Homo sapiens: one gene and its partners. The protein of the gene in region 2 purifies or fractionates together with the protein of the main gene of each other region. This does not show direct contact. Each region holds a gene or a part of one and is shown on either strand. Other genes may lie near its edges.

Region 1 (3,649 bases), on a different chromosome or scaffold from region 2:
CAGTGCGCTGAGATCGCACCATTGCACTCCAGCCTGGGCGACAGAGTGAGACTCTGTCTCAAAAAAAAAAAAAAAAAAAAAAAAAGGAATATTTGAAGTCTTACTGTTTCCTTCCACCTCCTGAATATGCTTAGCACAGGTCCACACTGAATATTTAGTGAATTAATGTCTGTTATATTAACATCAAATTGGGTTCCACAAATGAATACGTATCCCTACATTAGAATATCTAATCCTGAAAGCCTGATACCACAGGCTGACAACAACTATCCCAACACTTTAGGAGATGGATAGTAGAGGTCAGAGAGATTGAACAGGATGGCTTCTGTCCTGGTGTCGTTTAATATTTTAGTTATATAGTAATTTGTCTTATGTTTCATTTCACATGTAGGGAATTCCAAATGAAAGCTGGAGAATAACAAAGATAAATGAACGATATGAACTTTGTGATACATACCCTGCCCTCCTGGTTGTGCCAGCAAATATTCCTGATGAAGAATTAAAGAGAGTGGCATCCTTCAGATCAAGAGGCCGTATCCCAGTAAGTAGGAAGTTTGGATGAGCCTTTGCAAGTGCTTTTTTACTCAACATAATGCTGAGATTAATGAGTAGGAGAATGGATTCAGGATATAAATAGCTACAGCAGCAGGTCTTTCATGGGGATATTGGAGATTGATTTATTTAGTAAAGTTAAAACTGGAAGAAAGACTTAAAGAGGCTTCCAGAGAGTGTGATATGGGTATTAGATAACTGCACAGAATTGCATGATTCTTCACTGAAAAAGTTTGCTGTGTGTATTAGTCACTATTTATTTATCTTATTGTATATTCTTTAGTCATGATGATAAATGTTCTTTTTTTTTTTTAAGTCCTAGAAAGAACACCTTACAGATTTATAACTGGATCTTAGAAAGATGAGCTTAAATAATTTTAGGTACAAAATTCATAGATTCTAAAGGCTTTTAGAACTGAGCAGTTTTACTAATATATTAAGTGGGGTTTACTTAGCCCTGTTTCACAGTATTTTTTTCAGGAGATAACATTTCCCAATAATCAAATACTTTCCTAAATCAGTATCTGACTAAAGAATTAGACCAAGTTTTCCACATCCCAGAATTGGCTTGAAGGAAAGGTGATGATTTTTCTTAGCAGCCTCAGATGTCCTTTCATGGCCAGGCTTTGGATCCAATTAGAAAGCAGAGCTTTACTGAGTACTGTTTTTGAGAATTATAAACAGAGAAGTATGTAAAAGGTGTGTTACCATTTTTTCCTCATTAAGGTTTTATCATGGATTCATCCTGAAAGTCAAGCCACAATCACTCGGTGTAGCCAGCCCATGGTTGGAGTGAGTGGAAAGCGAAGCAAAGAAGATGAAAAATACCTTCAAGCTATCATGGATTCCAATGCCCAGTCTCACAAAATCTTTATATTTGATGCCCGGCCAAGTGTTAATGCTGTTGCCAACAAGGTCAGATGGTCTCTTAGTAATTATAATTATGGTTTCATGAATCAGCTGAGTTTGGCAGGGCCACAGTGTAGTAAAAAGAGCTCAGGCTCTACAGTGGTAAACATATAGGTTCTTGTCTTGGCTCTTCAACTTGATGGTGTGATTTTGAGTTAGTTATTTAACCTCTTTAGACCTCAATTTGTTTATTGGTAAAAATGAGAATAATAATAGTTAACAGTGTTGTTTTGGGAGCAAAAATCATTTAATAAAAAATAATGCATAAACTTTTGCTTACTTACATAATAACTAGGTGTTCAGTTATTCTTAGCTTCCCACTTCTCCAAAGTTGACAACTAACTGAGCTTATGACTCACTGAAGTCCCTGTATAGTACTGCTCTAGGAATAGCGAACTAGTGTTCTCGGTGACTAGTGGTGCCCTCTTCTGACCGTCCTCCACCTGAACAAGTTATTCAGACTGAAGAATTGGCAGTTAGCTGTAGCTGATTGTTCCAGCAGAATAAATATTAGCATTGTGGAAATTGAAATTTTGGTTCAGTTGACCAAATCTATAGGAGGAGGGAAGGAGAGAGAAGACATAACTACAGCAGCAGGTACCATTACTGAAAAGCGCTCATCTTTTCAAGTGTACATTTCAGTGCTTTTAGTATATTCACAAAGTTGTACAACCATGCCACTACCTGAATCCAGGGCATTTTTATTCTATGTGTTTCGGTGACAGGTTCTGTATAGTTGTTACCACTGCTGTCTTTCTAGAATGTTGCAACAAATTTGAATTGAAAGTTCCTGTCTTATTCCCACTCTTCAGAAGTAATCTTTAACAGGTATCCCTTGAAATACTGTAAATTCTATAATTGTGCCAAACGATTTCCCAGACTCTCAGTGTCAGAAAGGAAGCTGAACTTCTGTTCTTTCAGTAGTTTGTTGCTGGTTATGAGTTGGTGGTTTTGTTGTTTCAAAGGTGTGGGTCATATAATCACTTAATTTTGTATAATTTACTGCTCCAGTATTTTCCTAATTTGTTTCTATTAGGGCTCTAAGAAGTATAATTTTACACGAGTTAGGTAGGAGATAGAATATTTTATTCATGAAATATAAAAAGATTAAGTCCAGAAAAATAAGGTTCTTCTTTCTAGCCATAGCTTATTTTGAACACCAAATATTTTCTCATTCTATTTTGTAGATGTAGATTTAAGTCTTTGAGAACATTGATGATGATAGCATTCTGTGCTTTTATCCTTGTTCTGTCTTTTTATTTAAAGAGAATTATGTGGTTAAAAAAGAAGCAGGTCATTTTGATTGCAAAGAGTTTATTTCTCAGATATGAAGATTAAAATGAGGTGAAGAGGCAGGGAGGTGAAGAAGCATAGGTGAACCAGACATGTGGTCTCAGCACATGAAACTTACAGTCTGGTAATTTCAGTATATATGAAAGGAAGTCATCTGTAAGAACTTATGTTTGGGTAGGACTTGGCGTATGGGCTGGGAAAATTTAGTGCTTTACAGTGTTTAAATACCTTCCTATGTGTTTCATATTTAATTTTAATAATGGCCATATGGGCAAGTCAGACTACGTATATATTCATTTTGTAAAGAAGAACACAAGAAAGCGAGTGGTTGTGCTAAATAAGTTGTCCTGAGCCATCCACATTTTCCTGTGGAGTTTTCCTTGTCTCCAGTAATATGTATCATCTTTTATGCTATTGGATATTTTATGTCACTTGTTTACAGATGTGCATTCATTTATGATTTTCCATGATGTGTGCTTTTTTCCAGGCAAAGGGTGGAGGTTATGAAAGTGAAGATGCCTATCAAAATGCTGAACTAGTTTTCCTGGATATCCACAATATTCATGTTATGAGAGAATCATTACGAAAACTTAAGGAGATTGTGTACCCCAACATTGAGGAAACCCACTGGTTGTCTAACTTGGAATCTACTCATTGGCTAGAACATATTAAGGTGGGTGTGTGTTACTATATCCCAAACAAAGACTCTCTCTACCCCTTTGTTTATATTAGCTTTTTACTTATAATTGCAATCAACATGAAGGTACCTTTCTAAACAATGAAAAATGGGTAAATGCTTTGATACTTGGAACTACTAGTGAATTTTAATGTTTGAATGAATTGGTTTTTTATATTGTGCATTTGGTTATGTTGTATTTCTTTTGTTCCCCCTCCC
Region 2 (4,299 bases):
TCCCAGCTTCCCCCAGCTGTGTGATCTTGCGCAAAACAGGTTACTCTCGAAACCTCCGTTTCCTTGTCTATAAAAGGGGGACAATGCCTCAACAGGTTGTTTCAAGGATTCAATTAAATAAAATATATTAGAGAACCTGCATTTTGGCAGAAGTGTTCATGATGTCAATAAGGCAAGGTTTGTGTTCCACCTCTGTAGTTTTTTTTTTTTGTTTTTTTTTTTGATGGAGTTTCACTCTTGTTGCCCAGGCTGGAGTGCAATGGCATGATCTCGGCTCACTGCAACCTCCGCCTCCTAGGTTCAAGCAATTCTCCTGGCTCAGCCTCCCAAGTAGCTAGGATTACAGGTATGTACCATAGGGTCCAGCTAATTTTTGTATTTTTAGTAGAGATGGGGTTTCACCATGTTGGCCAGGCTGGTCTGGAACTCCTAACCTCAGGTTATCCACCCACCTCAGCCTCCCACAGTGCTGGGATTACAGGCGTGAGCCACAGCACCTGGCCGCGGTACATTTTTAAAGGATATTACTAAAGTAAGGGATAGCAGAAAGAACTCTGGCTTTCTGCCTCCGCTGCTGCCATGGCTTCTGTGAAAAAGCCTGTGGTGAAGGGGGGCAAAAAAAAGAAGCAGGTTCTGAAGTTCACTCTTGAATGCACTCACCCCGTAGAAGATGGAATCATGGATGCTGCCAATTTTGAGCAGTTTTTGCAAGAAAGGATCAAAGTGAACGGAAAAGCTGAGAACCTTGGTGGAGGGATGGCGACCATTGAAAGGAGTAAGAGCAAGATCAACGTGACATCCGAGGTGCCTTTCTCCAAAAGGTATTTCAAATATCTCACCAAAACATATATGAAGAATAATTTACGTGATTGGTTGCTCCTAGTTACTAACAGCAAAGATAGCTACAAATTATGTTACTTCCAGATTAACCAGGACAAAGAGGAGGAAGATGAGGATTAAATTTCATTTATCTGGAATATTTTGTATAAGTTTTTCAATAAAACTTGGGAACCAAAAGAAAAAAGAAAGAACACGCGACAAGCGTCAGAAAGACCTAAGTCTCTAAATCTCACATCTCTAGGCTTATTCAGCTGTTAAATGGGGGACTGTACTAGCTATTTCTAATTGACTTACCCATTCTGAAAAACTAAAGTAAGCCCCAATTTCTGCTGAATCCTATTCATTTTTGTTCATTTGCCTCCAACTTCTCTAACATGAGGGATTTATGACCCTTTGAAACAGGTGAGGAAAACCAAAGAAAGGCCAAGATGCCCAAGAAACGTATCATTTGCATGATATTAAAGTTGTAAGCCAAGCTTTTTTATAGGGATGTCTGGATGATTCACTCAGATTAGTGGTAGGCAATAAACGCCTGTACCGAAAATGTTGCATTTTCTGGCACAAAGTCACTGATAAGCACACTGCCTAGCATATAGCAGACACTCAAAAATGCTGGTTGAATGAACAAGGAGCCAACTGACACCTGTTACTCCCTATAAAATCTTTAACTTTCTTAAGCCAAAACTCAAGAAAGATGGTTGTCACATTAAGAACTCTACTAAATATCCTCTGAACGAACGAATCCTTCAAATTCTCAATTATGCTAAATGGAAAAACATAAACAACCGTTGAGAGAAATGCTGAACCAGCGGAAAAAACTTCAAAGCCAAGTTTCAACATTCCCGTAGAGCTAGATACACCCACTGACTGCTGCCAGGGTCAATTTCCCGGCCTCTTCCAGAGCTCATAAGCACCCCCAAAAAGCGCTTAGGAAAAAAAACCCAGCGCCTACTCTACCCTGGTACGCTCGACTCCTCGCACACGTAAACCTTTAAGGTGGATGTCAGTGCAGCCAGCATTGAACAGACGCGAACACGGGGAGACAAAAAAAGCATCTCCCCATATTCACAAGGGTCACCACAGACAAACTCTGAAAAGACCAAATTATTCACAAATCTAAGAGAATTGACAGATCCTCTTTGAGATAAACTATTTTCCTACAGTTTCTGGAGGCAAACAAAAACTCCAAAAACAAGTCGAACGGTCCATCTCCCCACTCCTCTCCCAAGAATGTGGCTGTTTTACATATCACACCCTGGACTCCGACAAGCGAACTCCTAGACCTTCCCGGGGCCTCGGATCGCTGAGTGGCAGAGGAGCTGCCCCGCAGAGCTTTCGGTTGCTTTGGCAGAGTCCCCGTGAGACCTGCCTGCCTGCCCACAAACTCTTCTTGGAGTAAAAGTGAAAGAGAAAAAAAACCCGACTCGTCCACCGTGACGGATGGTGGGGGATTTTAGCAGAGTTGAGTAGCCCAAAGAGGATTCAATTTCCCCCCGCCCTCGGCTGCCTCCTCCCGCTTTCCTGCGAAGCCGGACATGCCTCCTTGGTCCGCGCAAGCCCCACCACCACCCACATGGTGTGTCCGTCCCGGTCAGAGCACAAGAACTTTAAAATGGTGCCTCGGGCCACAAGGCTCATCGGAAAGAGTCACAGAGGCCCACGGCCAGCAAGTGGGCGCGGGGGGTCAGGAAAGGAGGCCCCGGGTGGCGGGTGGGGCGCCCCGGGTGACGCGCGCGTTAGTGGGCGGAGGGAGGCGCACCAGGCAAAGGAAAGGAGAGAAATGGATCGCGGCCCCTTTAAGAGGCCTTCACGGCGCTCAGGAACTGGGGGCCTCTCCACCACCCCCAGCCCGGCGTATGGGGCCCTTCCTTGGGGAGAACTATCTCCAGACCCGCTCCCCGGAGGCTCCCCTCACGCCAGGTCTCGCCCGGCCCTGCCATGGGACGGCGGCTCCTCCTTACCCCGCTGTCTGCCGCCTCTTCCCAGCTCTCAGCGACCTCCTCATCTTCCATCTTACTCGCCGCTTTCCCTCCTCCCCCACCCCCTCCCCGCGCCTGCGCTTTGAAGCGCGCCTCCGTCGCGGGCGCAGGCACGCAAGGCTTTACTCAATGGACCCCGCCCGCTGCCAAGCCCGGAAGAGGCGCCAGGCAAGGTCCCAAGTGTACATTAGGGCAGCCATCTTGGAAGGGGGCAGAGAAGGCGGAAAGATGCCATCTTTCTTAAGGGCCAACGCGTTATCTGTCTTACAGAATGGGCGTTCAAGGGAAGTCCTCATCTCGAGTACCGGAAGTGTGTTCTGTGGAACCATCTTTTCTAAGGGCAGGCAATTAAAGAAAACTTTTTTTCTTTTAAAGTGAGTCGTAGTTTTCCTAAACTACAGATAATGGTATCTTCAGAATTCTGAAAACATTTTTAAACACCAACAAATGATGAAAAATATCTGCTGATGCAGAAAACATTTTATTATTTCTGATAGGGTGAAAATCATTACAGTATTTCCTGCTCATAAAGCAGTATTCTAATCATTTATTAACACTATATCCGCTACCGTAAGGTAAAGACGGTAAAGATAATATTGCACCTCAGTTGGGAGAACCAGTGGGATTCCCAGCTACTAAGTTCTCCTGGGTCTTTAATGGTAGATAAATACGTTAGTATTACCTCTAAAAATTACTGGCCAGGCGCGGTGGCTCACGCCTGTAATCCCAGCACTTTGGGAGGCCGAGACAGGCGGATTACCTGAGGTCAGGAGTTCAAGACCAGCCTGGCCAACATGGTGAAACCCCGTCTCTACTACAAATACAAAAATTAGCTGGGCATGGTGGCACACGCCTATAATCCCAGCTACTCCGGAGGCTGAGGCAGGAGAACTGCTTGAGCCAGGGAGGTGGAGGTTGCAGTGAGCCGAGATCATGCCACTGCACTCCAGCCTGGCCGACAGAGTGAGGCTCTGTCTCAAAAAAAAAAAAAATTATTTATGTCAGGGCAGGCGTAGTGGCTCACACCTGTAATCCCACTTTGGGAGGCCAAGGTGGGCAGATCACCTGAGGTCAAGAGTTCGAGACCAGCCTGACCAACACGGAGAAACCCCGTCTCTACTTAAAATGCAAAATTAGCTGGGCATGGTGGCACATGCCTGTAATCCCACCTACTCGGGAGGCTGAGGCGGGAAGATCGCTTGAGCCTGGGAGGCGGAGGTTGCAGTGAGCCAAGATTGCGCCATTGCACTCCAGCCTGGACAACAAGAGCAAAACTCTATCTCAAAAAAAAGTTATTTATGTGGCCGGGCATGGTGGCTCACGCCTATAATCCCAGCACTTTGGAAGGGTGAGGCGGGGGGATCGCTTGAGCCCTGCAGTTTGAGACCAGCCTGGGCAACGAGGCAAAAGCCCATCTCTACTAAAAAAAAAAAAAAAAGCTGTGTGATCTTAACGCAAGTTACATAAGGATTCTATGTCT
Region 3 (3,649 bases), on a different chromosome or scaffold from region 2:
GTATTGAGGGTATGATTAATAGATTGTTCTCACTAAAAGGGTTTGGTAGAGCAGTAGTCTGAGATAAAACTGGAAAGAGAAATTCTGGTAAGCAGTTTACAAGTATGCTACATGGATTCTTTGCAATTAGAGCGGAGTGAATGACCACCTGAGGTCAGGAGTTTGAGACCAGCCTGGCCAACATGGTGAAACCCCATCTCTACTAAAAATACAAAAATTAATCAGGCGTGGTAGCGCATGCCTGTAATCCCAGCTACTTGGGAGGCTGAGGCAGGAGAATCGCTTGAACCCAGGAGGCGGAGGTTGCAGTGAGCTGAGATTGCGCCACGCACTCCAGCCTGGGTGACAAGAGTGAAACTCTGTCTCAAAAAAAAAAAAAAAAAAAAAGAAAGCCACAAAATTAATGCGGCAAACCGGCCAGGTGCGGTGGCTCACGCCTGTAATCCCAGCACTTTGGGAGGTCGAGGCAGGTGGATCACCTGAGGTCAGGAGTTCGAGACCAGCCTGGCCAACATGGTGAAACCCCGTCTCTACTAAAAATATAAAAAATTAGCTGGGCGTGATGGCGCCCACCTGTAGTCCCAGCTACTCAGGAGGCTGAGACACGAGAATCGCTTGAACCTGGGAGGCAGAGGTTGCAGTGAGCCTATATCGTGCCACTGCACTCCAGCTTGGGCGACAGAGCATCTCAAAAAAAAAAAATTCAGTAAACAGTAAAAGAAAAAAGTTAAAAAAATTATGACAGTCTTAATCTTTGTTTTTTTTTTCGTTTTTTTTTTTGAGATGGAGTCTCGCTCTGTCGCCAGGCTGTAGTGCAGTGGTGCGATCTCGGCTCACTGCAGCCTCCGCTTCCTGGGTTCAAGCGATTCTCCTGCCTCAGCCTACCGAGTAGCTAGGACTAAAGGCGTGTGCCACCACGCCCAGCTAATTTTTGTATTTTTAGTAGAGATGGGGTTTCACCATGTTGGCCAGGATGGTCTCAATCTCTTTACCTCATGATCCGTCCGCCTTGGCCTCCCAAAGTGCTGCGATTACAGGCGTGAGCTACCACGCCCGGCCCTTAATTTTAATTGTTAAAATTTGATAAAGAAGGTGGGTAGTAGACATATCAAATGATCATTATATTATTTTCTGTGTGTTTGAAATATTTCACAGTATTTTAAGATGAACCTAAAATAAAACATTAAAGAAACTCCATTAAACTAATGAGCCTATAAAAATATATATCCCACTGGGCATCTGTAATGAAAACATGCTAATACTCAGCAAGCTTACTGATTTTTTTTTTTAAGCCGTTAAATTTCAGGCATCAGATTTCAGTCTTCTCTTTCCAAGCACATAGTACAAGCAGGCTCTTTCATCCCACACTCTTTTTTTTTTTCCGAGACGGAGTCTCACTTTGTTGCCCAGGCTGGCTCGATCTCAGCTCACTGCAACCTCTACCTCCTGGGTTCAAGCAATTCTCCTGCCTCTGCCTCCCGAGTACTACAGGCATGCTGAGAATACAGGCATGTGACACTGTGCCCGGCTAATTTTTGTGTTTTCGGTAGAGATGGGGTTTCACCATGTTGGCCAGGCTGGTTTCAAACTCCTGACCTCAGGTGACCTGCCCACCTCAGCCTCCCGAAGTGCTGGGATTATAGGCATAAGCCACTGCGCCCAGCCCAAATTCGTATGTTATACAGAATTTTCTGATTTATAAATGTGGGCAACTGATCGTAAAAAATTGTAAAAAACACTGTGACCTCTACAGAATCTGGACCCATAAATCTGTTTCTACATCTGGAAGGGAACTTGAGAGTCTTCCACGTTCAATGCCTTCATTTGACAGATGGGGAAAGTGAATCCCAAAATGTTTTGCATTTTTTGTCTTTTATGCAAGAAAGTCTTCCCTACCTTTGATCCGTAAGGCTGTTCATCTCTATATTCTTCTGTAAATTGTATGGTTTTGCTTTTTCACATTTAGGTTTATTGACAGTGCGTATTTTTTTCTGCTTAGTTTATCTTTATTTTTTATTTATTTATTCATTTTTGATTTTTGCACTGTCGCCTGGGCTGGAGTGCAATGGCGTGATCTCTGCTTACTGCAACTTCCACCTCCTGGGTTCAAGTGATTCGTCTGGCTCAGCCTCCCGAGTAGCTGGGATTACAGGCGCCCGCCACCATGCCTGGCTAATTTTTTTGTATTTTTAGTGGAGATGGGGGTTTCGCTATGTTGGCCAGGCTGGTCTCGAACTCCTGACCTCGTGATCCACCTGCCTCGGCCTCCCAAAGCATTGGGATTACAGGCGTGAGCCACCGCGTCCGCCCTATTTTATCTTTAATATGATCAGCTAGTATTTGTGTTACATATTCTTTTTCTACCATTATGTTTGTCATAAAATTATGCTCTATAAATTCATAAGGACAGGACATGCTTTTGTTATGCTCTGATTTTGGGTCAGAATATTGTAGAAAATGAAATTTTTGAATTCATTTTAGTGTAAATATTTTACAGATTTCTGCTCTTCTACATTATTTTGTCTCATTTGCCTTTAAAGATGAGTAGTACATGTATTTGACTATCCTTGAAAAATATTTTGCACACTTTTTATAGCAGTCATATTAGAATCTAGTTAGGCATTTGTGTATCTCTATCTAGTTTGTTTGAGAGCTGCTAAGTAAACCAGCTAGAATAATAGTGTGTAGATTGAAATAGCTCAAACATTCTGTATCAAAATTATAAGAATTTTAAGTTATTTTAATAAGCATTTAACAGTATCATGCTGTGTAAATAAGACCAAGCTGTGGCTTGGAGAGTAAACATTAAAAGTTTTTTTTTTTTTTTTTTTTTAAGATGGATTCTCACTCTGCCCCCCAGGCTGAAGTGCATTGGTGCAGTCTCAGCTCACTGCAACCTCTGCCTCCCGGGTTCAAGCAATTCTCTGCCTTAATCTCCCGAGTAGCTGGGATTACAGGCGCCCACCACTACACCTGGCTAATTTTTTATTTTATTTTATTTTTAGTAGAGATGGAGTTTCTTCATTTTGGCCAAGCTGGTCTTGAACTCCTGACCTTGTAATCTACCCGCCTCAGCCTCCCAAAGTGCTGGGATTACAGATGTGAGCCACTGCAACTGGCCTTTTTTATTTTTTTAAGGTGGAGTCTCTCTGTGTTGCCCAAGCTGGAGTGTAGAGGTGCGCTCTCAGCGTACTGCAACTTCCGCCTGCTGGGTTTAAGCGATTCTCCTGCCTCAGCCTCCCTAGTAGCTGGGATTACAGGTATGCGCCACCATGCCTAGCTAATTTTTGTATTTTTAGTAGAGACAGGTTTTGCCCTGTTGGCCAGGCTGGTCTTGAACTCCTGACCTCAGGTGATCCGCCCACCTCAGCCTCCCAGAGTGCTGGGATTATAGGCGTGAACCACCGCCCCTGGCCTAACATTAGAATCTTTCACAAATCTGGTCAGTAAATGCCTTTTTTTTTTTTTTTTTGAGACGGAGTCTTGCTCTGTCACCCAGGCTGGAGTGCAGTGGCTCCATGTCAGCTCACTGCAGCCTCCATCTCCCGGGTTCAAGCTGTTCCTCTGCCTCAGCCTCCCTAGTGCTGGGATTACAGGCATGTGCCACCACGCCTGGCTATTTTTTTGTATTTTTAGTAGAGACGGGGTT

The links.
Region 1: the proteins of SZRD1 (region 2) and MTMR2 fractionate together in Homo sapiens (co-fractionation; one large-scale study listed by BioGRID). This does not show direct contact.
Region 3: the proteins of SZRD1 (region 2) and NT5C2 fractionate together in Homo sapiens (co-fractionation; one large-scale study listed by BioGRID). This does not show direct contact.

What each region holds. Positions count from the first base shown.
Region 1 is NC_000011.10:95,847,492-95,851,140, reverse strand, and holds part of MTMR2 (phosphatidylinositol-3,5-bisphosphate 3-phosphatase MTMR2), read left to right. Parts: intron 1-391; coding exon 392-541; intron 542-1,278; coding exon 1,279-1,467; intron 1,468-3,241; coding exon 3,242-3,427; intron 3,428-3,649. UniProt on the Homo sapiens protein: Lipid phosphatase that specifically dephosphorylates the D-3 position of phosphatidylinositol 3-phosphate and phosphatidylinositol 3,5-bisphosphate, generating phosphatidylinositol and phosphatidylinositol 5-phosphate.
Region 2 is NC_000001.11:16,365,811-16,370,109, reverse strand, and holds the start of SZRD1 (SUZ RNA-binding domain-containing), read right to left. Parts: upstream 2,869-4,299; 5' UTR 2,853-2,868; coding exon 2,802-2,852; intron 1,018-2,801; exon of another isoform or gene 559-1,017; intron 1-558.
Region 3 is NC_000010.11:103,186,736-103,190,384, reverse strand, and holds part of NT5C2 (cytosolic purine 5'-nucleotidase), read left to right. Parts: intron 1-3,138; exon of another isoform or gene 3,139-3,260; intron 3,261-3,649. UniProt on the Homo sapiens protein: Broad specificity cytosolic 5'-nucleotidase that catalyzes the dephosphorylation of 6-hydroxypurine nucleoside 5'-monophosphates.